Regions from separate parts of the Homo sapiens genome. Here region 2 is linked to region 1. Evidence: fine-mapped expression QTL. A gene starts in region 1. The other region holds a variant in brackets. All regions are shown on one strand. Distances are between the middles of the regions.

What was found.
Region 2: its variant is fine-mapped to the expression of AQP8 in tibial nerve (GTEx, PIP above 0.99).

Annotation. Positions count from the first base shown.
Region 1 is chr16:25,208,958-25,224,435 of GRCh38, reverse strand. It overlaps AQP8 (aquaporin 8), which reads right to left and starts at 7,489. Exons shown (of 6, transcript NM_001169.3): 1 at 7,379-7,489; 2 at 6,991-7,238; 3 at 2,853-2,979; 4 at 1-74. The coding sequence starts at 7,390.
Region 2 is chr16:25,173,959-25,189,436 of GRCh38, reverse strand. LCMT1 (leucine carboxyl methyltransferase 1) reads right to left here. Exons shown (of 11, transcript NM_016309.3): 10 at 14,403-14,500; 11 at 11,209-11,436. The coding sequence ends at 11,414. It also overlaps the pseudogene RN7SL557P. Among named protein-coding and RNA genes, the nearest start is that of LCMT1-AS2, 33 kb to the right of the region's middle. The variant G/C (reference allele first, on the strand shown) is at 11,346.

The sequences.
Region 1 (15,478 bases):
ACCTGCCCCTGCTCCTGGACTGTCACAAAGGCCGCCCCAGATGCATTCCAGAACCTCTCCTCAGGACTCACCGCCTGCACAGAGAAGCTGCTGAGCCTCACAGTGGGGCAGAGAGACAGCTGGAAACTGAGGGGAGAGGGCCTAAAAAACGCATGCTACCCACCTTAAGAGCCAGTGAAGGGTTATGTCCAATTTCAGTTAGATATACCTGCATCCACATCCCAGCTCTGCCAGATTTTACTGTGCGACCCTGCGTGAACTACTGAACCTTTCTGAGCCTCACTTTGTTCAGCTGAAAAATAGTAATGGGGCTAGGCGTGGTGGCTCACGCCAGCAACCCCAGCACTTTGGGAGGCTGAGATGGGTGGGTCACTAGAGCCCAGGAGTTTGAGACCAGCCTTGCCAACATGGTGAAACCCCATCTCCACTACAAATACAAAAATTAGCGGGGTGAAGTGGCAGGCACCTGTAATCCCAGCTGCTCAGGAGGCTGAGGCACCAGAATCACTTGAACTCTGGAAGCAGAGGTTGCAGTGAGCTGAGATCACACCACTGCACTCCAGCTTGAACAACAGAGCAAGACTCCGTCTCAAAAAAAAAAAAAAGAAAAAGAAAAAGAAAAATGGGGATAACCCAGTCATGGCTCCAGGTTACAGACCTAAAACTTATGTAACTTAGATGATCCTCTTTGAGAAAAAGAACATAAACTATCTTTTTATTTTTCTTTGACACAGAGTCTAGCTCTGTCACCCAGGCTGGAGTGCAGTGACACGATCATAGCTCACTGCAGCCTGGACCTCCTGGGCTCCAGTGTTCCTCCTACCTCAGCCTCTCATGTAGCTGGGACCACAGGTACATACCAACCATGCCCACCTAATGTTTTTTTTAAAATTTTTTGTAGAGATGGAAGGTCTTACTATGTTGCCCAGGCTGGTCTGGAACTCCTAGGCTCCAGTGATCCTCCCGCCTCTGCCTCCCAAAATGCTGGGATTACAGGCACCAGCCGCCATGCGTGGCTAAAAATACCTTACTCTTAGAAACTTTACAAACACATATGATCAGGTGAACTCATTGCTAAGCCCCCACAGGACCGTGGAAGGGGCATGTGCAGGAGAGCCCTGAAGCCTGAGCTCAATTATTTCTATGGGCGATCGGCCTCAGGGCTATCACAGCCCCGAAGGGGAAAGACAGTGCAGTGCACAAGCTTCTGGACTCTGGATCCAGTCGGGGCTGTGCTGCTTACAGGCACGTCTGAACTTGAGCAAGTTACCTGCTTCTCTGCACCTCTGTTTTCTCATCTATAAAATAGGGATGATACTGACAGCTCCCAGCTCACAGACAAGGCCGTTGGTGTGCCTGGCACAAGGTAAGCGCTCTCTATGAACTGACTATGGTTTTTCATAAAGTTGCTGGGAGATGAAATAAGAGAATATGTGTAAAACATTTAGCAGGAAGAATGTGCTTAGGGAACCCTGCTGCCCCGCAGCTGTCAGAACCATGTTTGACAGGTTTTAAGTGGCAGGGCTTGAGCTCGAGTCTGGCCACTGCTTTTCAGAGCAGAAGCCGAGAAGGAAGGTCCCGGGCGTGTTCCATAGACAGGGGAACAGGCTGTGGCTCTCAAATTGGGACATGGAGAGACCACAGCAGGGGATGACAGTAAAGTGAGGCTTGAGAACAAAGTCTGCGGTGGGTCAGCACTTACAGCTTCAGACCCTATCACAGCCAAGCTGACAGAGCTCCCCCATCCACCACCCCCCACACACACACCAAGCAAGGCCCACATCTTGAAGGGCTTGAAGTATCCCTGGCTGAACCAAGACTTAAGGGCAAAAGAAAAGAAAGAAAGAGAGGGAAAAAAAAGAAAAAGAGGGATGAAGGGAGAAAGTCTATCCATGGATTTATGCATAAAGCTATGAAAACTCTGTGGCTGGCCAGGCTCGGTGGCTCATGTCTGTAATCCCAGCACTTTGGGAGGCCAAGGCAGGAAGATCACTTGAGGCCAGGAGTTGGAGGCCAATGTGGTCAACACAGCGAGAGCCCACCTCTACAGAAAAAAATTTTTTTTAATTTATTTATTTTTTATTGATAATTCTTGGGTGTTTCTCACAGAGGGGGATTTGGCAGGGTCATAGGACAATAGTGGAGGGAAGGTCAGCAGATAAACAAGTGAACAAAGGTCTCTGGTTTTCCTAGGCAGAGGAAATTAGTTGGGTGTGGTGACACACACCTGTAGTCCCAGCTACTCAAGAGGCTGAGGCAGGAGGATCACTTGAGCCCAGGAGGTCGAGCCTGCAGTGAGCTATGATTGCACCACCACACTCCAGCCTGGACAACAGAGTGAGACCCTATCTCTAAAATAAAAAAGAGAGGCCGGGCACAGTGGCTCATGCCTGTAACCCCAGCACTTTGGGAGACCAAGGCAGGTAGATCACTTGAGCTCAGTAGTTCAAGACCAGCCTGGCCAACATGATGAAACCCCGTCTCTACTAAAAATACAAAAATTAGCTGGGCATGGTGGCATGCGCCTGTAATCCCAGTTACTCAGGAGGCTGAGGTGGGAGAATTGCTTGAGCCCAGGAGGCAGAGGTTGCAGTGAGCCAAGATCAGGCCACTGCACTCCAGCCTGGGTGACAGAGCAAGACTCCATCTCAAAAAAACAAACAAATAAAAAATACAATAAAATGCAATAAGAAAGAAAGAGAGAAGAAAAACGTCCACCAATTCCACTGGCAGAAACAAGCAAAAGATTGGACATTTCCCCACTCCCCACTGTCCCACACACACACCCACATATGCACCTCCAGCAGCCCCATCAGAGAGGAAGACTAGCCCAGCCCCTGGGGTTTACCCACCTTGGCCAAGGCAGCCCCGAGCATCCCCCCGAGCAGCTGTGAGACCCAGTACGGGAGGAGCATCACCAGGTTGAGGCCTCCGATCAGCATGGCTGCCAGGGACACCGCAGGGTTGAAGTGTCCACCACTGTAACCCACAAGAGCAGAGGAAGTCATGAGCCCAGGGCTGACCACATGGCTGGCACTTGAGACAGTGTGTCCCAGCCAACCCACCAGGCTGGCCTCTCAGGGCAAGAGTCAGTCCGGGGCCCAGCTCAAATACAAAGAGGCACCAAATTGCTTCCATTTTCCCTGAGATGCCAGGCAGAGGGTAAGAGATAAAGGGCAGCCTCTAAGTCCAAAGCCCAGCCCCCAGGATGGCCCTGGAGGAAGAGCGTGTAGGGAGACCATCCCTTAACTCCTCCCTGACTCCCTCCAAGCCTCCCTCCAGCCCTTCAGAGATGTGGCCACAGGTCAGATTGAGATACCAAGGCTCCAAGTTAGTAGCCCAAGAGCGGTATCCAGGCCTCCCCTTATGATTTGTTTGATTTTACGAGACGGAGTCTTGCTCTGTCGCGCGGGCTGCAGTGCAATGGTGTGATCTCGGCTCACTGCAGCTTCCACCTTTTGAGTTCAAGCAATTCTTCTGACTCAGCCTCCTAAGTAGCTGGAACTACAGGTGTGTGCCACCACGCCTGGCTTATTTTTGTATTTTTAGTAGAGACGAGGTTTCACCATGTTGGTCAGGCTGGTCTCAAACTCCTGACCTCAAGCGATCCACCCACGTCGGCCTCCCAAAGTGCTGGGGTTACAGGCACGAGCTACCGTGCCCGGCCCGGGTCTCCCTTTATGAGTAGCTAGGCCCTGAATAAGACCTCCTGATTGGTTGAACTGCTCAGCCAGTGAAAACCCTACTTGTGGTCTGAAAGTGTGATGGGTGTAAAATGCAGATTTGGAGTTCAGGCTGAAAATGGCATTGAGAATCACGGGGTGGAGTTGGAGGTTCATGACCAGGTTAGGGATTGGGATTGGGAGTTTGGGGTGTGGAAGGGAATTAGACAAGTCAGAACCTGAGGTCAAAGGGCAGGTTGCAGTTGATCAGCCACCCCCTGGCTCATGGGTAAAGAGCCTTCGTGTTCACCAAGATGTTCAACCAGCCCAGGCCCCAGAGCCAGGGTGGCTGCACTCACATCAGTGTCCCAACCAGTCCCACTCTGATGGAGGAAATATTGTCACAGTTTGGCCTCCTGAATCCATCTGGTTTCCAGGAATGGATACTCCCCAATGAGAGAGAAAGGGACCCCAAGACTCCCCATGTCACTTGAGAACCAAAGTGCCCCCCTAATGTAAAGAGCCCACCAATGAGCTTACCCATCCTCCAAAGGACATAGGACATTCAGTTGAGACTGGGCAGAGGACCTCAGCTCTGCCCAAAAGGACTTTGTCCAACACCCTGATAGCTCGAGACCAGCTACCCCAACTTGTCTGGCTCAGCTCTGGGCCCAGGCCCTCAGATAAGCTCCATGCACGGTTTGATTTGATTTGTTTTTTGTTTTTTGTTTTTTTTTTTGAGACAGGGTCTCCCTTTGTCACCCAGGCTGGAGTGCAATGGTGCAATCTCGGCTCACTGCAACCTCCGCCTCCTGGTTTCAAGCGATTCTTCTGCTTCAGCCTCCCAAGTAGATGGGATAACGGGGCTGCCACCACGCCCGGCTAATTTTTGTATTTTTGGTAGAGACGGGGTTTCACCATGTTGGCCAGGTTGGTCTCGAACTCCTGACCTCAGGTGATTCACCTGCCTCGGCCTCCCAAAGTGCTGGGATTACAGGCGTGAGCCACTGCGCCTGACCTCCATGCATGGTTTGAAAGCACCAGCCAGTGCTCAGACTCCACAGGTTGGGAAGAGGGGCAGCCAGGCCTACTTGGCCTCAAGTAGCTTAGCCTGGGCTCTGCTGAGATACACAGATGAAGTCAGGGTGAGGCGGCTTCCCAGGGGAGCCCCAAAGGGGAGAGAAACTGTCACCCAGAGCATGGCTCTATCAGGAGGGCCAGGTGACGAAAACCACACATTTCCTGGTTTACACTCATTAGCAATAAAACAATCAAGACACATTCATTCATTCATTCATTGTTCACTCAGCATATATTTCTCTGACACTTACTGTGTGCCAGGGGCTGTGCTGGGTGCTTATAACTTACATACATAGCTTATCCTGGATCCAGTGAACAACCTCAAAGTCAGTGTCTGGCACGCAATAGGTGCTGAATAAATATTTGTCAAAAAAGCCAAACAGAGAGGCAGTATTTGCAGTGCCAAAGAGATGGTCTTTCCAGCCAGCTGGCCTGGGTTCAAAGCTCAACTCTGCCACTGAAGAGCTGTGTGGCATTGGCAAAGTTACATAACCTCTCTGTGCCTCAATGATCTCTGCCTGATAAAGCTATTGCAAAGATATTAAGAATTAATATTTGTACAGCCCATAGTAGTATCTATGTAGTTAGCATTCAAAAAACATCAGCTATTATTATTACTCATATTTATACCACTGCACACAGAGGCTTCAGCAACTTGCTGTGGTCACCCTGCTAAGAAGTGATAAAGGTTGCCTTCAATCTCAGATCCGTCCAAAGGGAAGATCATGTACTTTTTGTTTCACTTGCAGCCTCCCTTGGACGTCTAAAGAGATGTGGTTTGTTTTTTGTTTGTTTGTTTGTTTGTTTGTTTTTTGGAGATGGAGTCTCACTCTGTTGCCCAGGCTGGAGTGCAGTGGCACAATCTCGGCTCACTGCAACCTCTCCCTCCCAGTTCAAGCAATTCTCCTGCCTCAGCCTCCGAAGTAGCTGGGACCACAGGTGCCTGCCCCCACGCCCAGCTAATTTTTGTATCTTTAGTAGAGACAGGGTTTCACCCTGTTGGCCAGGCTGCTCTCCAACTCCTGACCTCAGGTGATCCACCCGCCTCAGCCTCCCAAAGTGCTGGGATTACAGGCGTGAGCCACTGCACCCGGCCTAAAGAGATGTTAAAGCTCTTTTCCATTCTGGTTTTCTCAGAAATAGTATTTCTGTTTCCTCATTCAGATCTATTTTTTGAGTGAGATTTAATACAGACCAACCATGTCCCAGATCACCCTGCCAGGCACCCCACTCAAGATCTTCGTCGTGATGGCTGGCTCTCCTGGGAACCAGCAGCCATGTCCACAGACCTCCCCATTGAGCCTCTACCCAGACGAGAGCTAAGCCAGAGAAGCCTGTCCCTTTCCCTGCCCCTCCTTCTTGATCACCTCTTGACAAGCCAGGACCACTGCAGATCTCTGCATACCCAGGTGGGAAAACCTGGCTCAGGTCTTCTATGCATTTCTGCTTTCCCTAAAACCCCCTTCTAGTGGTAACAATAACACAGCAACCAATGCCTGTTGTATGTTTGGTGTGTGCCAGGCGCTCTACTTCATTTAATTCTCATGACTTCCGCATGAGGCACTTGGATTTGAGCGCTGGAGCCAGACAGCTTGTTCTTGACTCCCGCCTCTGCCACTTTCTGGCCCTCTAAGCTTGGACAGATTACATGGCCTTTCACTTTTGCAGCTGTACAATGGGGCTAATAACAGGACCTACCCCACAAGGCTTTTGTGAGGATTAAATAACTAATATCTATAAAGTAATTAGACTAGTGCCTGGTACATGGTTAGCAATATAGATATGTTGGCTTGAAAAAAAAAACATTTAAAAGCTACTATTCCCATTTTATAGGCGGGGAACTTTGGGTTTAGAGAGTAACTTGCCAGCCAGGCATGGTGTCTCATGCCTGTAATCCCAAAACTTTGGGAAGCCAAGGCAGGAGGATCGCTTGAGACCAGGAGTTCAAGACTAGCCTGGGCAACATAGTGAGACCCCATCTCTACAACAAAATTTAAAAATTAGTTGGGTGCTGCGGCGCATGCCTGTGATCCAGCTACTCAAAAAGAGAATGACTTGCTCAAAGTCACAAGCTCACAGGCTGCGGGGTCTGGAGTTGACCCCAGTCTGACTCCCAACCCCATAGTTATCCAGAGCGCTCCTTGAAATCCCGAATACGTATGCGCCCAGGGGTCCTTGACAACGCCTTTGCTTTCCACACCCAGTGCCCCAAGTCAGCATCAGGCTGAATCCTCAGAGCTGGTCTCACCTGATATTCCCCAGCGTGGCAATCACGAGCCCCAAAGCCAGCCCGTGGGCCAGGGCCGGCTGCAGCAGCCCAGTGTCCGTCCCATTCTCAATGACCGACAGGCACCCGATGAAGATGAAGAGAGCAGAGCCCAGCAGTTCGACCAGACATGGCTGCACAAACCGTTCGTACCAGGACACTCGCCACCTGCCACCCACGCTCGGCTCCCTGGCCTTGTCATTGCCAAATTCAGGCTCACACATGGCTATCTGCCGTAGGGAAAAAGGGACAGAGGACACGGGTGGGAGGCAAGTCCAGATATAGAAGGCCCCGACCCCCAACCTTGAATTAATTCACAGCCCCCCTTGCTCTGCCAGCCTGGAGAGGAAGATGCCGACAGAGGGCTCACCTCTCCAGACATCAGGATCAGATGGCACAAACATCGGACTCTTGCCTGAGCTGCTGGGAAACCTGCACCTGCTGTGCAAGATACTCTTATCTCCTAGGGACAGGACCTGCTGATCACACTATGGGCTCTGCCCCTTTTAAAGGGCTGCAGAGGCTCAATGCTGGTGCAGAGAAAGCAATAAACCTCAGGTAGGAGGCGGCTCTGAGGCCCAGAAGAGGAAATTTTTTTAAATCTCAACAGGGCAGGGTGAGGGAGTCAGGGATTGCTGAACTTTCCGCCAGTGAGGGAAAAACACGCCAGCTTGGCTGTGTCATCTGGGAGCACACTCCAGGCTGTAGAAGGTGGGAGATGGGTCCAGCACCCCAGCTCCCCACGGTCCAAAGCAGAACAGCACATGTTAGTGGGCCCCACTGGGTTGGAACCTCACATGTTAAGAAACAGCAAACAGCCAGGTGCAGTGGCTCACGCCTGTAATCCCAGCACTTTGGGAGGCCGAGGCAGGTGGATCACGAGGTCAGGAGATTGAGACCATCCTGGCTAACACGGTGAAACCCCGTCTCTACTAAAAATACAAAACTCAGCCGGGCGTGGTGGTGCACGCCTGTAATCCCAGCTACTTGGGGGGCTAAGGCAGGAAAATCATTTGAACCTGGGAGACGAAGATTGCGCAGAGCCAAGATTGTGCAACTGCACTCCAGCCTGGGCAACAGAGCAAGGCTCTGAAAAAAAAAAAAAAGGAAAGAGAAAGAAGAAAGAAAGACAGAGAAAGAAAGAAAGGAAAGAAAAGAAAGAAAGAAAGAAAGAAAGAAAGAAAGAAAGAAAGAAAGAAAGAAAGAAAGAAAAAGAAAGAAAGAAAGAAAGAAAGAAAGAAAGAAAGAAAGAAAGAAAGAAAGAAAAAGAAAGAAAAAGAAAGAAAGAAAAGAAGGAAGGAAAGAAAGAAAGAAAGAAAGAAAGAAAGAAAGAAAGAAAGAAAGAAAGAAAAAAGAAAAAGAAAGAAAAGAAGGAAGGAAGGAGAAAGAAAGAGAGGGCGTGTTGGTGTTTGCCTGTAATCCCAGCTACTCAGGAGGATGAGGCATGAGAATCACTTGAACCCAGGACCCAGAGGTTGCAGTGAGCCAAGATCGCGCCACTGCACTTCAGCCTCAGAGTGAGACCCTGTCTAAAAAAAAAAAAAAAAAAAAGAAAGAAAGAAAGAAAAAAGAAAAGAAAGAAACAGCAATCCCATTTTCAATTATTTTTCCAATGAGTCCCACAGCTTCAAACACCTGCAGTCACCGTGACAGCCTGAGCCAGGACTGAGTGTATAGATGACGATCCTTCACAGACAGAGGCAGCAGAGACTGGCAAGAGGTAATGCAATGCAGCGGCAAGACCCATGAACTTTGGAAATAGGCTGCCTGGCGTTCAATCCCAGCTCTGCTGTAAACTAGCTATGTAACCCTTGGGCACATGACTTGGCCTCTCTGGGCCTTTGTTTTCTCATCTGTTAGGTGTGGATGTTAGTGGTTTCACCATGTCATAGGGTCGTTGGGAAGTTTAAATGAGATAATACGGGTAAAGTGCTCAGGACAGTGCTAGACACACAATACCAGTGTCCACTAATTTACAATACATGCTTAGCTGTAACTAATAGCTAATAGTGAGCACTTTCTATGTGCCAGGCACTGGGGCTAAGTGCCTTCTATTATCTCATTTAAACCTCACTGCCACCCTGTGAAGCAGGTACTATTATTACAACCATTTCACAGACGAGGAAGTGGAGTGTCAGGAAGATTGAGTTTCCCAAGATTACACAGCTTATATGATCACAGAACTTGTGGGCTGTCACAAAAGGATAAATACTGTATCTGATTCCACTTGTATGAAGTACCTAGACTAGTCAAATTCATAGAGACAGAAGTAGAATGGTGGTTTCCACGGCCCGAGGGGAAGGGAGAATGAAGAGTTTGTGTTTAGCGGGTACAGATTTCCTGTTTGGGAGGAAAGTTTTGGGATGGATGATACAGTGGCACAACAATGTGAAGTACTTAATGTCACTGAAATGTACACTTAAAAATGGTTCCAAATGCTGGGTGTGCTTGGCTCACACCTGTAATCTCAGCACTTTGGGAGACCAAGGCAGGAGGATCACTTGATTTTAGGAGTTTGACACCAGTCTGGCCACATGGTGAAACCCTGTCTCTACTAAAAATACAAAAATTGGCTGGGTGTGGTGGTGCACGCCTGTAATCCCAGCTACTTGGGAAGCTGAGGCAGGAGAATCGCTTGAACCTGGGGGGCAGAGGTTGTAGTGAGCTGAGATCACACCACTACACTCCAGCCTGGGTGAGAGGATGAGACTCCATCTCAAAAAAAAAAAGGTTAAAATGGCATATTTTATTTTATGTGTATCTTGCCACAATTGAAAAAAAATACTTGTGAGCTAACCCACTACACTCTACTGCCTTTCTAAGAGAGATGGATGGATGGATGGATGGATGGATGGATGGATGGATGGATAAGTGGATGGATGGGTGGATGCATGGATGGATGGGTGGATGGATGGATGGATAGATAGATGGTTGGGTGGGTGGGTGGGTGGATGGATGGATGGATGGATGGATGGATGGATAGATGGGTGGGTGGATGGATGAATGGATGGATGGATGGATGGATGGTTGGAAAGAAGGGAAGAAAGAAAGGAAGGGAGGGAGGAAGGAAGGGAGAAAGGAAGGAGGAAGGAAAGAAAATGAGATGAGTTCCTTATTCATTCATTCACTCACCAAACATTTAAATAGCTGCTGCAAGCCAGTCACTGTTCTAAGCTGGCTGGAGATGTAGCAGTGAACAAGACAGGCAAAATCCTGCTCTGTCTCATAGCTTTATCTTTGAGTGTTTGTATGCACTGATAGAGAAGTCAAGCTAGAGCTAACGGAATTTTAATGCTCATTTCTGACATTTCTCAACTACTCACTACATCTCCAACACCATGCTAAACACTCGGTATATATTCGTAAACCCCTTTGAGATAAGTCCTATCACTTATTATCACCATCTTCAGATGATAAAAACGAGGCACAAAGAAGTTAAGAACTCACCCATGGCTGTGTACATAAAAATATCTGCTTCAGGACAGAAGTGGACATATCTAGAGAAGAGCGTGACAGTTTGTTGACAGCCCATGTCAGCGAGAGGCCCAGGAATACAGGGTCTCTGCCAAATATCTGCACCTCTAGGAAGGTTATTTTTAGCCCTGTTCTCTACCTCCTCCATATCCCACAGCACATCATACAAGATGTTTCTTAGACCCTTCCTTCCACATCCTATAAATAGCAACATAAGATAGTCTGACCCAAGGCTTCCCCATCCCCCTCATTATTTGCTCAAATCCTGCCAGTACTGCTTCCAGAATAATTCTCTCTTGTTTTCACCCATGCCTTCATCTGTTCTTGCTTAGTCCCTTGAACAAAGAAAAACTAAGCTGGATGCACTGGCTCGCACCTGTAATCCCAGCACTTTGGGAGGCCAACGCGGGCAGATCACAAGGTCAGGAGTTCAAGACCAGCCTGACCAACATGGTGAAACCCCATCTCTACCAAAAATACAAAAATTAGCTGGGCATGGTGGCACACGCCTGTAATCCCAGCTACTCAGGAGGCTGAGGCAGGAGAATCGCTTGAACCTGGAAGACGGAGGTTGCAGCGAGCCGAGATCACACCACAGCACTCCAGCCTGGGCCACAGAGCGACACTCCATCCCACCCCCCCACCCCCCAAAAAATGGATTCTTTGCTCACATAATAGTCCATGACAGGCTCGTCTCCAAATGGTGACTCAGGGATCCAGGCCACTTCCATCTTGGAGCTGCCCCATCTAGGTCCTCAGATCTTCTCCAGCAAAATGGGAAAAAGAGAATGTGGAGGGCTGTGCAGGAAATTATTATGGGCTAGGCCTAGAAATACCATATATCCCTCTCACCTATATTTGATGGGCTCAAACTCAGTCACGTGGCTTCACCTGACTGCAATCGAGCCTGGGAATTGTAGTCTAGCCCTGTGCCCAGGAGGAAAAAGAAAGGCATTTTATGAATATCGAGCAATTTCTGCCACATACTAGAAATTGTTGCTTTCCCAGAGACCATGGTTCTAGTTGAGTTTTTCCCTGAATTAAATCATTCAGTGTGTCCCATGGTTCCAAGACAAACCCAGACTCCCTTAGCTAGCCACAGAGACTTCAGTTCCTAGCCCCTGAATCATCTCTTGCCACATGAACCCTAAACAATTTATCAGATAAGCTATGTACCCTCACCCGGCCTTGTCCATGCCAGTCCCTCTGTTTGGAGTCCTTGTTTGCCCTCTTGGCCAACTTCTACTCCTCATTCAGATCTCAGATCAGATATTATGTCCTCTCTGATGCCTGGGCAAACTACCTATTGGTCCTCTAAAAACACCCTTCCCTTGCTCAAGGCAAGGTTGGATTCCATAACTCCAAAACTAGGCCAGTGCAGCGGCTCATGCCTGTAATCCCAGCACTTTGGGAGGCCAAGGCGGGTGAATCACAAGGTCAGGAGATCGAGACCATCCTGGCTAACACAGTAAAACCCCATCTCTCCTAAAAATACAAGAAATTAGCCGGGCATGGTGGCACGCGCCTGTAGTCCCAACTACTCAGGAGGCTGAGGCAGGAGAATTGCTTGAACACGGGAGGTGGAGATTGCAGTGAGCCAAGATTGCACCACTGCACTCCAGCCTTGGCAACAGAGCAAGAGTCCGTCTTAATTAAAAAAAGAAAAAAAAAAGGAAAGAAAAAGAAAACTAGTGGCTTCCAGGGAAAACCTGAATGCCATTCAGACAAAACAACATATTTCCACTACATGAGAGTTTTAGAGTATGTCCTGATGTCCTCATACACAATATACTGTCTCTCAAAACCACTGAAAAACCTAGTGGGCTAAGGAGATACTGTCTTCCTAAAAAATTCTTTGGCTGGCAAACTTCCTAGTTTTCCAAATCCAGGTCTGGTTAACAGGACCAAGGCTTCTAATCTTTATCCCTGTTTGGTTGGCAAGACTTCTCTGCATCTATACCTGTCTGCCATCCCCCACCAGGTCCAGATGGAGTGTAGAAACAGGTCACATTTTACCCTGGCATCTCACCTTTCCCTTCTCTCTTGCCTTGATGGCTGCACTGTTGTGCCAGATGTGACGCTGCTGCTGTGGCAGCCATCTTGGACCGTATATATAGGCCAGATGTAGTGGCTCACCCTTGTAATCCCACCATTTTGGGAGGCCGAGGCAGGTTCATTACCTGAGGTCAGGAGTTTGAGACCAGCCTGGCCATATAGTGAAACCCCGTCTCTATTAAAAATACAGACATTAGGCCGGGCGCGGTGGCTCACGCCTGTAATCCCAGCACTTTGGGAGGCCGAGGCGGGCGGATCACGAGGTCAGCAGATCGAGACCATCCCGGCTAAAACGGTGAAACCCCGTCTCTACTAAAAATACAAAAAATTAGCTGGGCGTAGTGGCGGGCGCCTGTAGTCCCAGCTACTTGGGAGGCTGAGGCAGGAGAATGGCATGAACCCGGGAGGCGGAGCTTGCAGTGAGCCGAGATCCCGCCACTGCACTCCAGCCTGGGTGACAGAGCGAGACTCCGTCTCAAAAAAAAAAAAAAAAAAAAAAAAAAATACAGACATTAGTGGGGCGTTGTGGCACACACCTGTAGTCCCAACTACTCAGGAGGCTGAGGCAAGAGAATCACTTGGACCTGGGAAGCAGCAATTGCAGTGAGCCAAGATCACATCATTGCACTCCAGCCTGGGCAACAGAGCAAGACTCCATCTTAAAAAAAAAAAAAAAAAAAAAAAAAAAAAATATATATATATATATATATATATATATATATATATATATATATATAAAATAAAATAAATATATATATAATATAAAATATATAGATATAAAAATATATATATATATGATTGTAAAACCTAAGACCAGTACTTGAGCTATTCTGCAGACCCTGTACTTGATGGATCAGCTAGCACCACCACCTAGATGGATAAACTGGCTCATGTGATCTTGTGGGCTCCCTCAGGAACTGACTCAGCGCAAGGAGACAGCTTCAACTCCATATAATTTCATCTCTGACCAATCAGCACTCCTGACTCACCGGCTTACTCCCACCCACCAAGTCGTCCTTAAAAACTCTGACCCCTGAATGCTTGGGGAGACTGATTTGAGTAATAATAAACTGGTCTTCTGCACAGCCAGCTCTGCGTGAATTACTCTTTCTCTATGGCAATTTCCCTATCTTGATAAATTGGCTCTGTCTAGGCAGCGGGCAAGGTGAACCTGCTGGGAGGTTATGTAATTATTTAAGAATGAAATACAAATATAAATAAAATATGTTTTTAATGTACTTGTCTTATTCAGTGTATGTGTATTATTGTCTGTACAATATATGTGAATGTTTTGTGTACATGTGGGGTTTTTTTACAAATGGCTACTAAGTTGTTAGAACATAAGAACTTTTTAAGTGTTTTGCACCTAATTCCTTAATAAATAGAGCTATTAGGTATTTTTTTTGGGGGGGGCCTCCGCACAGAGTGAACCAAGAAAGTTTGGGGTCCTCTGAATTAAAGAATTTATGTTCTTGTATTTCAAGTACTTGCAGAAGAGAACAGTTCTTGCAGATACATCATCCCCAAATTCCAGAGATACTGGGTTTCAGGTTAATAACTTCTCAAAGCTAGACACCATTTATAATGCAGAGACTTGACAATTTAGGCTGTGCTCTGTGGACAACCACAGAAACTTAAAGCAGAACCTGTCATTCTCTTCTGAAACTGCTTTCTTTCCATCTCGGTAGATTTGCAATTGTATTCAATGTATTACCACTTGGAGCTCAGGGCAACTAGCCATTGGAAGTAAGTCTAGTTTTCACCTTTCTGTCTTCTCAAACTGCAAGATTGAGAAGACATTTCTCAACTACTCACTACATCTCCAACACCATGCTAAACACTCGGTATGTATTTGTAACCCCCCTTTGAGATAAGTCCTATCACTTATTATCACCATCTTCAGATGATAAAAACGAGGCACAAAGAAGTTAAAGAACTCACCCATGGATGGATGGATGGATGGATGGATGGATGGATGGATGGAAGTTTGCACCTGAGCAACTTCCTTCCTCAGAGAAGTCACCAGCTCTTTCTATTCTCCCCTGCAGTGTCAAGGTCAAGGTGTTGAACGTCTTTCGAGTCACGAGTAACCAGTTATATTGGCTATTTCAGAATGCTTTACAGCCAAAAAGTCCTTGAACGAAGGAAGAAGTCCACTAAGTCTCATCAGCAAGGGTCCAGCTTCTCTTCATCTGCATGTTTTGAACAATAAAAATGACTACCACTTTCTGAGAACCTACTGAGAGCTTGGCACTCCGTCTTCCTTTTCTATCTCTTTTATCCTTTTTATCTACATCCAAATTAAATAACTCTACAGAAGAAAAAATCCAAATGATCAATAAACAGACAAAAAAAAACCTTAATCTCTGCAATAGCCAGAAAAAAATTCAAATTAAAGCAACAGAAATAACATTTTCACCATTAGATTGGTAGAAAGACTTTTTTAACTGATTAACATACAGTGCTGACAAAGAAGGGGAAAACAGGCCAGGCGCAGTGGCTCATGCCTGTAATCCCAGCACTTTGGGAGGCCGAGGCTGGCAGATCGCCTGAGGTCAGGAGCTCAACACTAGCCTGGCCAACATGGTGAAACCCTGTCTCTATGAAAAATACAAAAATCAGCCAGGCGTGGTGGCTCACGCCTGTAGTCCTAGCTACTTGGGAGGCTGAGGCAGGAGAATTGCTTGAACTTGGGAGGTGGAGGTTGTAGTGAGCCGAGATTGCATCACTGCACTCCAGCCTGGGCAACAGAGTGAGACTCCATCTCAAAAAAAAAAAAAAAAAAAGAAAAAGAAAAGAAAAAAAAGATGGGGAAACAGGAAAACTTATACATTGCTGGTGGAAGTGGGAATTGCTACAATATTTTGTAACACCATCTTGAAATGTTTATTGTTAAATACTTAGATATACACACCCTTGACCCAGCAAACCTCAAACTGGG
Region 2 (15,478 bases), 35 kb after region 1:
CAAACCTGGGCAACACGGTGAGACCCCATCTATACAAAATATAAAAAATCAGTCAGGCATGGTGGCATATGCCTGTAGTCCTAGCTAATTAGACTTGGGAGGTTGAGGTGGGAGGATCCGTTGAGCCCAAAGTGGTTGCAATGAGCTGCGATTATGCCACTGCGCTCCAACATGGGTGACAGGAGTGAGGCCCGGTCTCAAAAAAAAGTGAGGATTAAAACAAACTGACGTGGAGTTGTTATAGGGACGGAATAAATTAACACAAGCAATTAGAAGCACAAATATGCAATTGGTTAGTAATGACGGAAGACACGGGTATACAGGCATGCTCTCTTGCGAATGCGAATCCATCTGCCTAGGGGACTTTGTATGACAGTCTCAGGAAAGCTTCCTCGGCCAGCTTAAATGGAAAAGCTGCTTCTCTTTTTTTCTTTTTCTTTTTCTTTGAGACGGAGTCTTGCTCTGTTGCCCAGGCTGGAGTGCAGTGGTGCGATCTCAGTTCACTGAGAGCTCAACCTCCGCTTCCTGGGTTCAAGTGATTCTCGTGCCTCAGCCTCCTGAGTACCTGGGATGACAGGTGTGCGTCACCATGCCGCGCTAAGGCTAGTTTTGTTGTTGTTGTTGTTTTTGAGGCAGAGTCTCACTCTGTCGCCAGGCTGGAGTGCAGTGGTGCGATCTCGGCTCACTGCAACCTCCACCTCCCGGGTTCAAGCAACTCTCCTGCCTCAGCCTCTGGAGTAGCTGGGACTACAGGCACGTGCCACCATGCCCAGCTAATTTTTGTATTTTAGTAGAGACGGAGTTTCACCATGTTGGCCAGGATGGTCTCGATCTCTTGACCTCATGATCCACCCGCCTCGGCCTCCCAGAGTGCTGGGATTACAGGCGTAAGCCACCACGCCTGGCCTAATTTTCTTTTTTTTTTTTTTAATAGAGACAGGGTTTCACCATGTTGGCCAGGCTGCTCTCGAACTCCTGACCTCAAGTGATCCGCCTGCTTTGGCCTCCTAAAGTGCTGGGATTACAGGCATGAGCCACTGCACCCAGCCAATAAGCTGCTTTTGTTAGGTGAATCCATGGCTTTCCCACATAAAGGTTGCCATACCTTACAGTAAGGCATATTTGACAGTCCTCCAAAAGAATGAAAGCTCCTTAAGGGCATATGTCATGTCTGTCTTGCTTATACAGTAGGTGCTTATCTTTCATTGAATAAAATAATAAAATAATGAAAGGAGCCAGGTGCAGTGGCTCACACCTGTAATCCCAGCACTTTGGGAGGCCGAGGAGGGCAGATTGCCTGAGGTCAGGAGTTCAAGACCACTCTAGCCAACATGGTGAAACCCCGTCTGTACTAAAAATACAAAAATTAGCTGGGTGTGGTGGCGCACACCTGTGATCCCAGCTACTCAGGAGGCTGAGGTAGGAGAATTGCTTGAACCTGGGAGGCAGAGGTTGCAGTGAGCTGAGATCATGCCATTGCACTCCAGCCTGGGCAACAGAGCAAGACTCCATCTCGAGGAAAAAAAAAAAATGAAAGGGTCAAGGAAGTTTGCATTTGGGGTGGGCTTTGAAGGTGGGCAGGGTTGCAGGCATGAACTCTGGGGAAAGCACAGGCCAAGGAGAGAGGCTGGCATTAGATACAGCCTGGCGGCACCTGGTTTTTTGACTAGAAAATAAGACTACATGTAAGATGAGGCCCAATCACAGAGCATCTTCCTTGCCTTGTTAAGAGTTGGGCGTTCAGGCATTAAGCAAAGAGGCAGCTTTGACAGTCTTTGGTCACTGGAATGATGTGCTCAGGGCTTCAGGGGACAGGTTTGTTGTCTACAGGAATGCAGGAGGCTGAGAACAAAGGCCAAAAAGATTCTTGTGAGACAGAAGACTGAGTCTGGGTGGCAGCAGTACAGTAGAGACAGTTATGATAAACACGCTGATTGAGGAAAAGGAACCAAACATGGCCTCCTAGCCAGTGAGGAGAACAAGGAGAAGCAAGGAGTCGATGACTCTGAGGATGCTGAGTGGAGTGGAGGTCCTGCTGGGAAGGAATTCAAAGCTCATTAAAGAAGAGCTATTTAGGGCCAGGCGTGGTGGCTCATGCCTGTAATCCCAGCACTTTGGGAGGCCAAGGAGGGTGGATCACCTGAGGTCAGGAGTTCGAGAGCAACCTGGCCAACATGGCAAGACCTCATCTCTACTAAAAATGCAAAAATTAGCTGGATGTGGTGACTCATGCCTGTAATTCCAGCTACTCAGAGGTTGAGGCAAGAGAATCGCTTGAACCTGCGAGGTGGAGGCTGCAGTGAGCTGAGACTATACCACTGCACTCCAGCCTGGGTGACACAGCAAAACTCCGTCTCAAAAAAAAAAAAAGAAAAGAAAAGTAAAGTTATTTAGGAGAGGGGGAAAGATGTATTTGGTTTTAGAAATGTTGTTTGAGAAGCTGGTGAGTCACCTAAGAGGAGGTTAAGATAGGCTCCTGGGAATTCCATCTAGGAGACATCAGACTTTTCCCTCTGTTTGGTTAATTAGGGTTAAGATCCAGGTTTCAGGCCGGCCACGGTGGCTCACACCTGTAATCACAGCACTTTGGGAGGCCAAAGCGGGTGGATGACCTGAGGTCAGGAGTTCGAGGCCAGCCTGGTCAACATGGAGAAACTCCATCTCTACTAAAAATACAAAAATTAGCTCGGCATGGTGGCGCTTGCCTGTAATCCCAGCTACTAGGGAGGCTGAGGTGGGAGGATTGCTTGAACCCGAGAGGCAGAGGTAGCAGTGAGCTGAGATTGTGCCACTGCACTCCACCCTGGGTGACAGAGCAGGACTCTGCCTCAAAGAAAAAAAGAAAAAAGATCAAGGTCTCAGATAAGCTTTGGAGTCTGAAGCCTATGGTGAGAACAGCTAGAGAGAAGATGAATAAGGAAACAGAGGACAGGAACAACACTGTGAACAAACTGGACCTAACAGACATGTGCAGGACACTCCACACACATGCAGCGAATGCATGTTTAATTAATACCAATTCTTCTCAAACTAATTCAAAAGAAAAAAGAAAAAGGAGGAAACACTTCCTAACTGATTCTAAAAGCATGGCCCCAGTACCAAAGCTAAATGAAGACCCTGGAAGAAGATTACAGACTAATATCTCATATAAAGATTGAGGCCGGGTGTAGTTGCTCACGCCTGTAATCCCAGCAGCACTTTGGGAGGCCGAGGCAGGTGGATCATTTGAGATCAGGAGTTCAGGACCAGCCTAGCCAACATGGTGAAACCCCGTCTCTACTAAAAATACAAAAATTGGCCAGGCATGGTGGCTCACGCCTGTAATCCCAGCACTTTGGGAGGCCAAGGCGGGTGGATCACTAGGTCAGGAGTTTGAGGCCAGCCTGGCCAACACAGTGAAACCCCGTCTCTACTAAAAATACAAAAAATTAGCCAGGCGTGGTGGCGGGCGCCTGTAATTCCAGCTACTCAGGAGGCTGAGGCAGGAGAATCACTTGAACCCAGGAGGCAGAGGTTGCAGTGAGCCAAGATGGTGCCATTGCACTCCAGCCTGGGTGACAAAAGTGAAACTCCATCTCGAAAAAAAAAAATTAGCCGGGCGTGGTGGCACATGCCTGTAATCCCAGCTACTCAGGAGGCTGAGGCACGAGAATCGCTTGAACCTTGAAGGTGGAGGTTGCAGTGAACAAGATTGTGTCACTGCACTCCAGCCTGGGCAACAGAGTGAGACTCTGTCTCAAAAAAGAAAAGAACATTACTAGGCTGGTTGTGGTGGCTCAAGCCTGTAATGCCAGTACTTTGGGAGGCTGAGGCAGGCAGATTGCTTGAGTTCAGGAGTTTGAGACCAGCCTGGGCGACATGGCGAAACCTCATCTCTACAGAAAAAATATCAAAAAAAGCCAGGCATGGTGGCAACATGCCTGTCATCCCAGCTACTGAAGAGGCTGAGGTGGAAAGATCACTTGAGCTGGGGAGTTGGAGGCTGCAGTGAGCCGTGATCAAGCCACTGAACTCCATGCTGAGCGACAGAGTGAGACCTTGTCTCAACAACAATAATAAAAAAGATGGATACAAAAATCCTCAACGAAAATTCTAGAAAACTGTCGCTCAGCGTGGAGTTCAGTGGCTTGATCACGGCTCACTGCAGCCTCCAACTCCCCAGCTCAAGTGATCTTTCCACCTCAGCCTCTTCAGTAGCTGGATGATAGGCATGTTGCCACCACGCCTGGCTTTTTTTGGTATTCTAGCAAACTGAACTCAGCAGTATATTAAAAGAATTATATGCCATGACCAAGTGGAATTATTCCTGGAGTGGCCCAATGTACAAAAATCAACCGATGTAATGTACCACATTAACCAAAGGGGAAAAAAAAACACACACACACACAATCATCTCAATTGATATAAACAAAAATTTGAGAACATTTATATCCTTTCATGATTTAAAAAGCACTCAACGAAATTAGAAATAGGAAATTAATTCAATATAATAAAGACTATTTATTTATGAGGCAGGATTTTGCTATGTTGTCCAGGCTGGAGGGCAGTGGCATGATCATTACTCACTGTAACCTCAAACTCCCGGGCTCAAGCTATCATCCTGCCTCAGCCTCCAAGTAGCTAGGCATGCACCACCATGCCCAGCTAATTTTTTAGTTTTTTGTAAACAAAGAGTCTTCCTATGTTGCCCAGACTGATCTCAAACTCCTGACCTCAAGCAATCCTCCCACCTCAGCCTCCCAAACTGCTGGGATTACAGGCAGGAGCCACCATACACAACCTGACCATATAAAAAAACCCACAGCTAATATCATACTCAACAACGAAAGACTAAAAGCTTTTTCTCCAATAGCAGGCATAAGACAAGGATGTCCACTTTTTACTACTTCTATTCAATATCGGATTGAAGGTAGACAGAGAAATTGTGCAAGAAAAACAAAGAGAAGGCATCCAAAATGGCACAGAAGTAACATTATGTCTGTCATGATCTTATATATAAGAAATCCAGGCCGGGCGTGGTGGCTCACGCCTATAATTCCAGCACCTTGGGAGGCTAAGGCAAGCAGATCACCTGAGGTCAGGAGTTCGAGACCAGTCTGGCCAACATGGTGAAACCCCGTCTCTACTGGAAATACAAAAATTAGCTGGGTGCGGTGTTGTGCACCTGTAGTCCCAGCTACTCGGGAGGCTGAGGCAGGAGAATCGCTTGAGCCTGGGAGGCGGAGGTTGCAGTGAGCAGAGATCGCACCATTGTACTCCAGCCTGGGCAACAAGAGCAAGACTCCATCTCAAAAAAAAAAAAAAAGAAAAAGAAAAAGAAAAGAAAAGAAAAGAAAAAAAGAACAAATATTGTTCTTTCGAAAGATTTCACGTACAGGAATATCTGAGAGATATTGCAGGTTTAGTTCCAGATCATCTCAATAAAGTGAATATCACATGAATTTTTTGGTTTCCCAGTGCATATAAATGTTATGTTTATGCTATACTGTATTCTATTACGTGTGCAATAGTATTATGTCTTTAAGATGTGCATGCCTTACTTTAAAAATACGTTATTGCTTTAAAAATGCTAATGATCATCTGAGCCTTCAGCAAGTCATCATCATTTGGCTGGTGGAGAGTCTTGCTTTGATGTTGATGGTTGCTGGTTGAGCAGGGTGGTGGTTACTGAAAGATCAGTGAATGGCTGTGCAGACAACAATGAAGTTTGCCTCATTGGTTGACTCTTCCTTTCCCGAAAGATTTCTGTGGCGAGAGAGGCTGTTTTACAGCATTTTACTCACAGTAGAACTTCTTTCAAAATTGGAGTCATTCCTTTTAAACTTTGCTGCTGCTTTATCAACTAAATTTGTGTAACATCTTAAATCCCTTATTGTCATTTCAACAATGTTCACAGCATCTTCAAGGATGTAGGAGTAGATTCTATCTCAAGAAACCACTTTCTCTGCTCATTCATAAGTAGCAATTCCTCATCCGTTGAAGTCTGATCATGAGATTGCAGCAATTCAGTCACATCTTTATGCTCCATTCCTAATTCTAGTTACCTTGCTATTTCCACCACATCTGCAATTCCTTCCTCTACTGAAGTCTTAAATGCCTCAAAATCATCCATGAGGGCTGGAATCAACTTCATCCAAACCCATTAAGGTTGATATTTCGACCTCCTCCCATGCATTACTAATTTTTTTTTTTTTTTTTTTTTTGAGACGGAGTCTAGCTCTGTGGCCCAGGCTGGAGCGCAATGGCGTGATCTCGGCTCACTGCAACCTCCGCCTCCCGGGCTCAAGCAATTCTCCTGCCTCAGCCTCCTCAATAGCTGGGATTACAGGCATGTCCCACCACACCCGGCTAATTTTTGCATTTTTAGTAGAGAAGGGGGTTTCACCATGTTGGCCAGGCTGGTCTTGAACTCCTGACCTCAAATGATTTGCCCATCTCGGCCTCCCAAAGTGCTGGGGTTACAGGCATGAGCCACCGTGCTCGGCTACTAATGTTCTTAATGGCATCTAGAATGGTGAATCCTTTTCAGAAGGTTTCCAATGTACTTTACCCAGATCCATCAGAGAAATCACTACCTATGGTGGCTACAGCCTTACAAAATGTATTTCATTATTATTTTTTTTTTTTTTGAGATGGAGTCTCACTCTGTCGCCCAGGCTGGAGTGCAGTGGCGTGATCTTGGCTCACTGCAACCTCTGCCTCCCAAGTTCAAGCGATTCTCCTGCCTCAGCCTCCCAAGTAGCTGGGACTACTGCCGCCCGCCACTGCGCCGGGTTAATTTATGTATTTTTAGTAGAGACGGGGTTTCACCATATTGGCCAGGCTGGTCTGGAACTCTTGACCTTGTGATCCACCCACCTCGGCCTCCCAAAGTGCTGGGATTACAAGCGTGAGCCACTGCACCTGGCCTTACAAAATACATTTCTAAATAGTAAGACTTGAAAGTCAAAATTACTCCTTGATCCGTGGGGCTGCAGAATGAATGTTGTGTCAGCATGCATGAAAACAGCATTCATCGCCTTGCACATCTCTGTCAGAGTTCTTTGGTGACCAGGTGCACTGTCAATAAGCAATAATATTTTGAAAGTAATTTTTTTTCTCAGTAGTAGGTGTCAACAATGGCCTTAAAATACTCAGTAAACCACACCGTAATCAGATGTGCTGTCACCTGGGCTTTGTTGTTCCATTTCTATAGCACACAGATTTGGCACCTTTTTTTTTTTTTTTTGAGACAGAGTCTCACTCTGTCACACAAACCGGAGTGCAGTGGCACAATCTTGCTTCAGTGCAACTTCCACCTCCCAGGTTCAAGCAATCCTCGTGCCTCAGCCTCCCAAGTAGCTGGGACTACAGGCATGCACCACCACACCCAGCTAATTTTTGTATTTTTTAGTAAAGATGGGGTTTCACCATGTTGGCTCGGCTAGTTTCGAACTCCTGGCCTCAAGCAATCCGCCTGCCTTGGCATGACCCACTGCACCCAGTGGATTTAGCATAATTCTTAAGGGCCCTAGGATTTTCAGAATGGTAAATAAGCACTGACCTTAACTTAATGTCACCAGCTGCATTTCATACTAGACACTAAGAAGTCAGGCTTTCCTATGAAGTTTTGAAGCCAGGCATTGAATTCTCCTCTCTAGCTTTGGAAGTCCTAGATGGCATCCTCTTGCAAGAGAAAGCTGTTTTGCCTACATTGAAAATCTGTTGTTTAGTGTAGCCACCTTCCTTCATCAATGATCTCAGCTGGATCTTCTGGACAACTTGCTTCAGTTTCTCCATCAGCACCTGCTGCTTCACCTTGCACTTTTATGTTATGGAGACGGCTTCTTTCCTTAAACCTCAGGAACCAACCTCTGCTAGCTTCCAACTTTTCTTCTGCAGCTTCCTCTCCTCTCTCAGCCATCACATAATTGAAGAGAGTTAGGGCCCTGCTCTCGATTAGGCTTTGGCTTAAGGGAAGGTTGTGGCTGGTTTGATCTTCTATACAGACCGCTCAAACTTTCTCCATATCGGTAATAATACAGTTTCGCTTTCTTATCATTCATGTGTTCACTGGAGTAGCACTTTTTCATTTCCTCCAAGAACTTTTCCTTTGCATTCACAACTTGGCTGTTTGGCACAAGAGGTCTAGCTTTCGGCCTATTTCAGTTTTTTTTTTTTTTTTTTTTTTTTTCAGATGGAGTCTCACTCTGTCACCCAGGCTGGAGTGCAGTGGTGCCATCTTCGCTCACTGCAACCTCTGCCTCCCAGGTTCAAGCGATTCTCCTGCCTCAAACTCCCAAGTAGCTGGGACTACAGGCGCCTGCCACCACACCAGGCTAATTTTTGTACTTTTAGTAGAGATGAGGTTTCACTATGTTGGCCAGGCTGGTCTCAAACTCCTGACCTCAGGTGATCCGCCCACCTCGGCCTCCCAAAGTGCTGGGATTACAGGCATGAGCCACCACAGCCGACCCTATTTCAGCTTTTGACGTGCCTTCCTCACCAAGCTTAATCATTTCCAGCTTTGATTTAAAGTGAAAGGCATGTGACTCTTTGTGACTCTTCCTTTCACTTGAGCATGTAGAGGCCATTGTAGGGTTATTAACTGGCCTAATTTCAATATCAAATTTGGAATAGGACGGATGGGAGGATCACTTGAACCCGAGTTCAAGACCACCCCTGGCAACATAGGGAGACCCTGTCTCCACAAAAAAAGTTAAAAATAGCCAGGCTTGCTGGTGTGTGCCTGTGGTTCAGTTACTCAGGAGGCTGAGGAAGGAGGATCACTTGAGCCCAAGGAGGTTGAGGCTGCAGAGAGCTATGACTGCACTACTGCACTCCAGCCTGGGAGATGGGGCAAGACCCTTTCTGAAAACAACAACAACAAAAAGTAAACATTGTGGGGCCAGGCACGGCGGCTCACGCCTGTAATCCCAGCACTTTGGGAGGCCGAGGCAGGTGGATCACGAGGTCAGGAGATAGAGACCATCCTGCCTAACGTGGTGAAACTCCATCTCTACTAAAAACACAAAAAAAATTAGCTGGGCATGGTGGCGGGCTCCTGTAGTCCCAGCTACTTGGGAAGCTGGGGCAGGAGAATGGCGTGAATCCGGGAGGTGGAGCTTGCAGTGAGCTGAGATCGCGCCACTGCACTCCAGGCTAGGTGACAGAGCAAGACTCCGTCTCAATAAAAAAAGTAAACATTGTTTCTGCTAATGCTATACATATACCAGAGTTACCCCTTTCCTGTGGTTTTGTTTTCCAAGGTTTCCGTTACCTGAGGTCAGTTGAGGTCCAAAAATAAGTGAGTATAGCTAAGATATTTTCTTTTTTTCCAAGATGGAGTCTTGCTCTGTCATCCAGGCTGGAGTGCAGTGGCGCAATCTCGGTTCACTGCAACCTCTGCCTCCTGGGTTCAAGCAATTCTCCTGCCTTACAGATGCCTGCCACCAAGCCCGGATTTTTTTTTTTTTTTTTTTGTATTTTTAGTAGAGACAGGGTTTCACCATGTTGGCCAGGCTGGTCTTGAACTCCTGACCTTGTGATCTGCCCATCTCAGCCCCCCAAAGAGCTGGAATTACAGGCGGCGGGGCGGTGGGGGGGGGGTTTCACCATGTTGGCCAGGCTGGTCTCGAACTCCTGACTTCAGGATCCACCTGTCTTGGCCTCCCCAAGTGCTGGGATTACAGGCGTGCACCACTGCACTCGGCCAGTTAAGATATCTTCAAAGACCACATTCACATAACCTTAACATATTGCTATAGTTGTTCTTTTTTAAATTGTTGCTAGTCTTACTGCACCTAATTTATACATTTTATCACAGGTATTTATTGATAGGAACACATCCCATCAACTGGCATGCCACTAGAGGTGCAGGGCCCACACTCTAGGGGACACTGATTTAAGGATTCTGAATGGTAGAAGAGAGGCTGTTACCTCTCCAGCAGAGGAGAGCGCTGGGGACTTCTGCAGTGCCACCCTGCACATGCAGGTTCAGGCTCGCAGCGCCAGTCACATAACTTAAGAAGTCCCTGTAGACAAGGTCTACCCATCACTCAGGGAGTTCAGCAGACAGGTATGGGACAAGCCTTATGTTTCTGAAATATGAGGTCATCACTCAGGGGCCCTATGAACCTGTCTCATAACTGCATTGACTTCTAGTTGTGGCTGTAAGTTTAAGCCCCCAACTTGGTGGCTCAAAACACCACAGATCAGTCTGGGCACAGAGGCTCATGCCTGTAATCCCAGCACTTTGGGAGGCCAAGACGGGCGGATCACTTGAGGTCAGGAGTTCGTGACCAGCCTGGCCAACATGGTGAAACTCTATCTCCACTAAAAATACAAAAATTAGACAGGCATGATGGTATGCACCTGTAATCCCAGCTACTTGGGAGGCTGAGGCGGAAGAATCACTTGAACCCGGGAGGCAGAGGGTGCAGTGAGCCGAGATCGCGCCACTGCACTCCAAGCCTGGGCAACAGAGCAAGACTCCATCTAAAAAAAAGAAAAAAAAAAAAAAAAAACCACCACCACAGATGTATTCTCTTACGGCTCTGGAGGTGAGAAATCTGAAATCGATTTCTCTGGGCTAACATCAAGGTGTTGGCAGGCAGTTCCAGCTGGAGGCCAAGGGAGGGTCTGCTGCTATTGCCCTAGGTAGCATCCCCTGGTTGCCCCTGCTTCTTGTCTGGGCCCCTCTGACTCTGACGCCTCGTCTGTCCCTCTAATGAGGACCCCGTGATCCTATCAGGCCCACCTGGATAACCCAGGACCACCTCTTCATCTCAAACCCCTAATCCCATTTGCAAAGCCCCTTTGCCACAGAAGGTAACACACACTCACAGGTTCTGGGGATCAGGACATGGACACTTTAGGGGCCATTCTTCAGCCTGCCACCATGACCAAGATGAAGGAGGCAACTGAGCAGGCCAGTGTGGCCAGGGCGGAGACAGGAGCCCGAGAAGAGCACTAGCCTCACATCTGGTGGAGGACAAGGGTCAGGGAGTGAGGCACAATGTCATGTGCTGCAACAAACAGCATGTGAGGGAGTAGATCCTAAAATGGACTCAAGGTCATGGGCCGGGTGTGACTCACAGGGAGTAAGCCAAGGTCAAAGCAGACTTGGGGTCCTTGGCTTTAGCTAACACAGAGGTGAACCCTGGCCCGCCCAAGCCATGGGGCACGGAACGAGCAGCGGCAGCCAGCAGAGGTCCAACCACAGGCGACTGGTGGCAAGTGAGATTTATTTAAACAACGACATGTCAACAGGAACAGGAAGAGGAACATGTGCGACCACTGTAGTGACCAAGGCTTCTCAAGAGTGTGGGATGAGACCTGCGGACGAGGCCCGCCCACCGCTCAGG[G/C]AGCTTGCAGGTCTCCTCCAGGAGGGCAAGTGGCTTCGGCTTCTGGCTCGGCATAAGCCTTCGACAGATTAATAAGTTATCTCCTTCAGCCCTGAGGGGAGAGACACACAGACACCATTAGGAGACTCTGGTGGCCAGGAGCAGAGGCCCCTAGAGGACCCCCAGTGACCGGCTCAGGGGCACCAGCCACACTGCTGACCACTGTAGCACCGCCCTCCTGCTACATAAAATGAGGTTTCGCAAGGAAACAAAAGGTTGGGTAAGACTGTGTTTATGGGTGGTTTTAAAATGATTAAGAAAACATTATAACAGTTTATGGACTGTCTGCAGTTAACGCCAAAAATCTACCCTTTATGTGCTGAACTTTGAGCAAAGGCAGATACGGATCTTCCACACACACAGACAAGCACTGATGTCCCAAAGCAGTCACGGGTCAGTGGGGACAAAGTAAATTCCTGACATTAAAATGCTCAATATATTGTTCCTTTGTGAGAACTAGAGTTCACTTAAAAGTATTACAAATAACCTACATTTCCAAAAATATGGAAATATTAATTCAGCCATAGTGACATAATACAATATTATAAAGCCATTACAATTATGCTCATTGAGCATTTTTAATTGCCAGGGGGAAATGCTAATGTTATAACATTAAATTGAAAACACTTGAAATCAAAGTTGCATAAATATAAAAATTCAACTCTTATTATAAAAACAAACAAAACACTATTTAGAAATAGAGGGGAAGGGAAAAGTCACAAGAGGTCATCTCTGACTGACAGGCATACAGGTGGATTTTCTTAGTCATACTTTTTAGAAGCTTTTAAGTTTCCTACTAAGAAGTATTTTTTAATATAATTAAGAGGAGGATAACATACAAATACCCCAATAAGTGACTTTTTTTTTTTTCTGGAGACAGAGTCGCGCTCTGTTGCCCAGGCTGGAGTACAGTGGTGCCATCTCAGCTCACTGCAACTTCTGCCTCCCGGGTTCAAGAGATTCTCCTGCCTCAGCCTCCCAAGTAGCTGGGACTACAGGCATGTGCCACCACGCCCAGCTAAATTTTGTATTTTTAGTAGAGACGGGATTTCACCATGTTGGCCAGGCTGGTTTCGAACTCCTGACCTCAGGTGATCTGCCTGCCTTAGCCTCCCAAAGTGCTGGGATTACAGGCATGAGCCACTGCGCTCAATTCACAATAAATGACTTTAAATCCAAAAGGAATGTGAAGGCCAGGCACAATGGCTCATGCCTATAATCCCAGCACTTTGGGGGGCCGAGCCAGGCAGATCACTTAAGGTCAGGAGTTCGAGACCAGCCTGGCCAACATGGTGAAACCCCATCTCTACCAAAAATACAGAAATTAGCTGGACATGGTGGTGGACGCCTGTAATCCCAGCTACTCAGGAGGCTGAGGCAGGAGAATCACTTGAACCCAGGAGGCGGAGGTTGCAGTGAGACGAGATCATGCTACTGCACTCCAGCCTGGACAATGAGCAAGACTCCATCTCAAAAAAAAAAAAAAAAAAAAAAAAAAAAAAGCCAAAAAAAAACAAAAACCAAAACCAAACAAAACAAATGTGAAAGGATTGTGTGGGCTGAGCTGCATAGCTAGGCAAATCTGTGTGGAATGACAGGTCCAAAGGGGCTGATTATCAGTCTCATGTCAACCTGGAATTTTTGCATAGGGAATGGTCCTTGCCTCTGTCAAGTTCTGTTTCGGATCAGCTGCCCGCTTGTGACCACATGTCATGTGGATTACATCTGCGGGAAGCTTGAAGGGCAGCTATTCCACTGAAGGCCGGAACTGGGATCTAAAGTGGCCTCCATCGGGCTGGAGAGACACTCAAAGCCTAACCACTGGGGGAGGCAAGCCCAGCAGGGGGCAGCTGAAAAGGAGCTGGACCAGGACAAAGGTAACAAGAAACAGAGATAGATCCACGCCTGTTCTCCGTGGCCCTACTCGGCCACAGACAGGCATGTGCACCTTAATGAGAAGAGGGAAAATTCAGCCCCTAGCTGCATGGGTTTGTAAGCAAGATGTACTGATCTGTGCGTTTAACATCCAGTGAACCTGGTTGTAAGTGGATGGAAAAGACAAACGCCGGTTACTTTTCTAGAGATTTTTAAACTCTCAAGCTCTTTTACCTTCCAGCTGTGGGAACTCCACAGTACATCTCTCAAGGGTTGTTTTGGGCTACAAGGCTTAAACAGTTCTCTTGGTTTTTGTGCTATAAAAGCACAAAAGATATAACAGCAAGTTCTCTGGATATGCTCACGGATACATGTACATCATCCTCTAGTTCTTTCTGGGCCCAAAGTTCCAAATACATCTTTCATTTTGGGAAGAAGAAAAGTTCCGGCCAGGCACAGTGGCTCATGCCTGTAATCCCAGCACTTTGGGAAGCTGAGGCAAGAGGATTGCTTGAGGCCAGGAATTCTTTATTTATTTATTTTTTGAGACAGGGTTTCGCTCTTCTTGCCCGGGCTGGAGTGCAATGGTGCAGTCTCGGCTCACTGCAACCTCCACCTCCCAGGTACAAGTGATTCTCCTGCCTCAGCCTCCCAAGTAGCTGGGATTACAGGTGCCTGCCACCACGCCTGGCTATTTTTTTTTTTTTTGTATTTTTAGTAGAGACGGGGTTTCATCATGTTGGCCAGGCTGGTCTCAAACTCCTGACCTCAAGTGATCTGCCCACCTCAGCCTCCCAAAGTGCTGGGATTACAGGTGTGAGACCCCGCGCCCAGCCTACTTGAGGCTAGGAATTCAAGACCAGCCTTAGAGAGACCTCTACAGAAAATTAGCCAGGCTCCTGTAGTCCCAGCTACTCAGGAGGCAGGAGGATCACTTGAGCCCAGGAATTGAAGGCTGCAATGAGCTATGACCGTGCCACTGCACTCTAGCCTGGGTGACAGAGCGAGACCCTGTCTCAAAACAAGAAAGAAGGGACAGAGAGAGAAAGAGGGAAGACAAAAAACAGAAAGAGAAAGGGAAAGAATAGGAAAAAGAAAAGTTCACTATTTCCAGGTCAAGGCAAGAAAAGTACAATCACGCACCAAGCTCATTTCCTCCTTTGGTTGCCCAGCAAAGGCAGTAATGCCGCATGAGCTGCTCCAGCAGCTCCATTTCATCCAGGAATTCAAGTGATTCTATCCTGTGGAAAGAATTAAAATAGAACGATGCAAGTGTCTGCATTGAAAATGAAGATCATGGCCCATAGCTACGGATATGAAAAAATGTTTATGATAGATTAAGTGGAAAGAAGGCGGCTATAAAATAGTAATTATGGTGTGGCTCCATTTTAATGTCTTTTCACTGAAAAGAAGAAAAAATACCATAAACAAAGTCAAAATACAAATGCCAAACTAGAAACATATATTTGCAATTCAAGTGGCAAAGGGCTGAGTTCCTTATTATATAAAGAGCTGTTAAACTTCAGTAAGAAAAACTAGTGGCAACTGGAGGAGACAGGCAGAGTAAATTGAAGCAGATTCATACTGTCAAAACAGGACACTATGCAGCCATTTTTAAAAATGGGGTAGGTCCATACGTATTAATATGCAATAACCTCCAAGACATATATATCATGGAATTTAAAAAGCAAGTTGCGTAATTTAAAAAGCAAGTAATGTGCATATTACACCACTCTCTATGTAAAGAAAAAGTGAGACAAATTTGTCTGTATATGTACAGACTTTTGGAAAATACAGAAGAAACTAGAAATGGTAGTTGTCTCTTAAGAGAGAAGGTAGTAGACCAGTAGTGAGGAGGGTTGTTTTTACTCTATACTACTTCATTTTGGTTTTGTAAAAAATTATATGCATGTATGACTTTTCCCAAAAAGCCTTTTAAATGTAAACTTTTAAACATACATACACAGGTTGGGTGAAGTGCCTCACGCCTGTAATCCCAGCACTTTGGGAGGCCATGGTGGGTGGATCTCCTGAGGTCAGGAGTTCGAGACCAGCCTGGCCAACATGGTGAAACCCCATCTCTATTAAAAATACAAAAATTAGCCTGGCATGGTGGTGCCCACCTGTAGTCACAGCTATTTGGGAGGCTGAGGCAGGAGAATTGCTTGAACCTGGAAGGCGGAGGTTGCAGTAAGCAGAGATCGCGCCACTGTACTCCA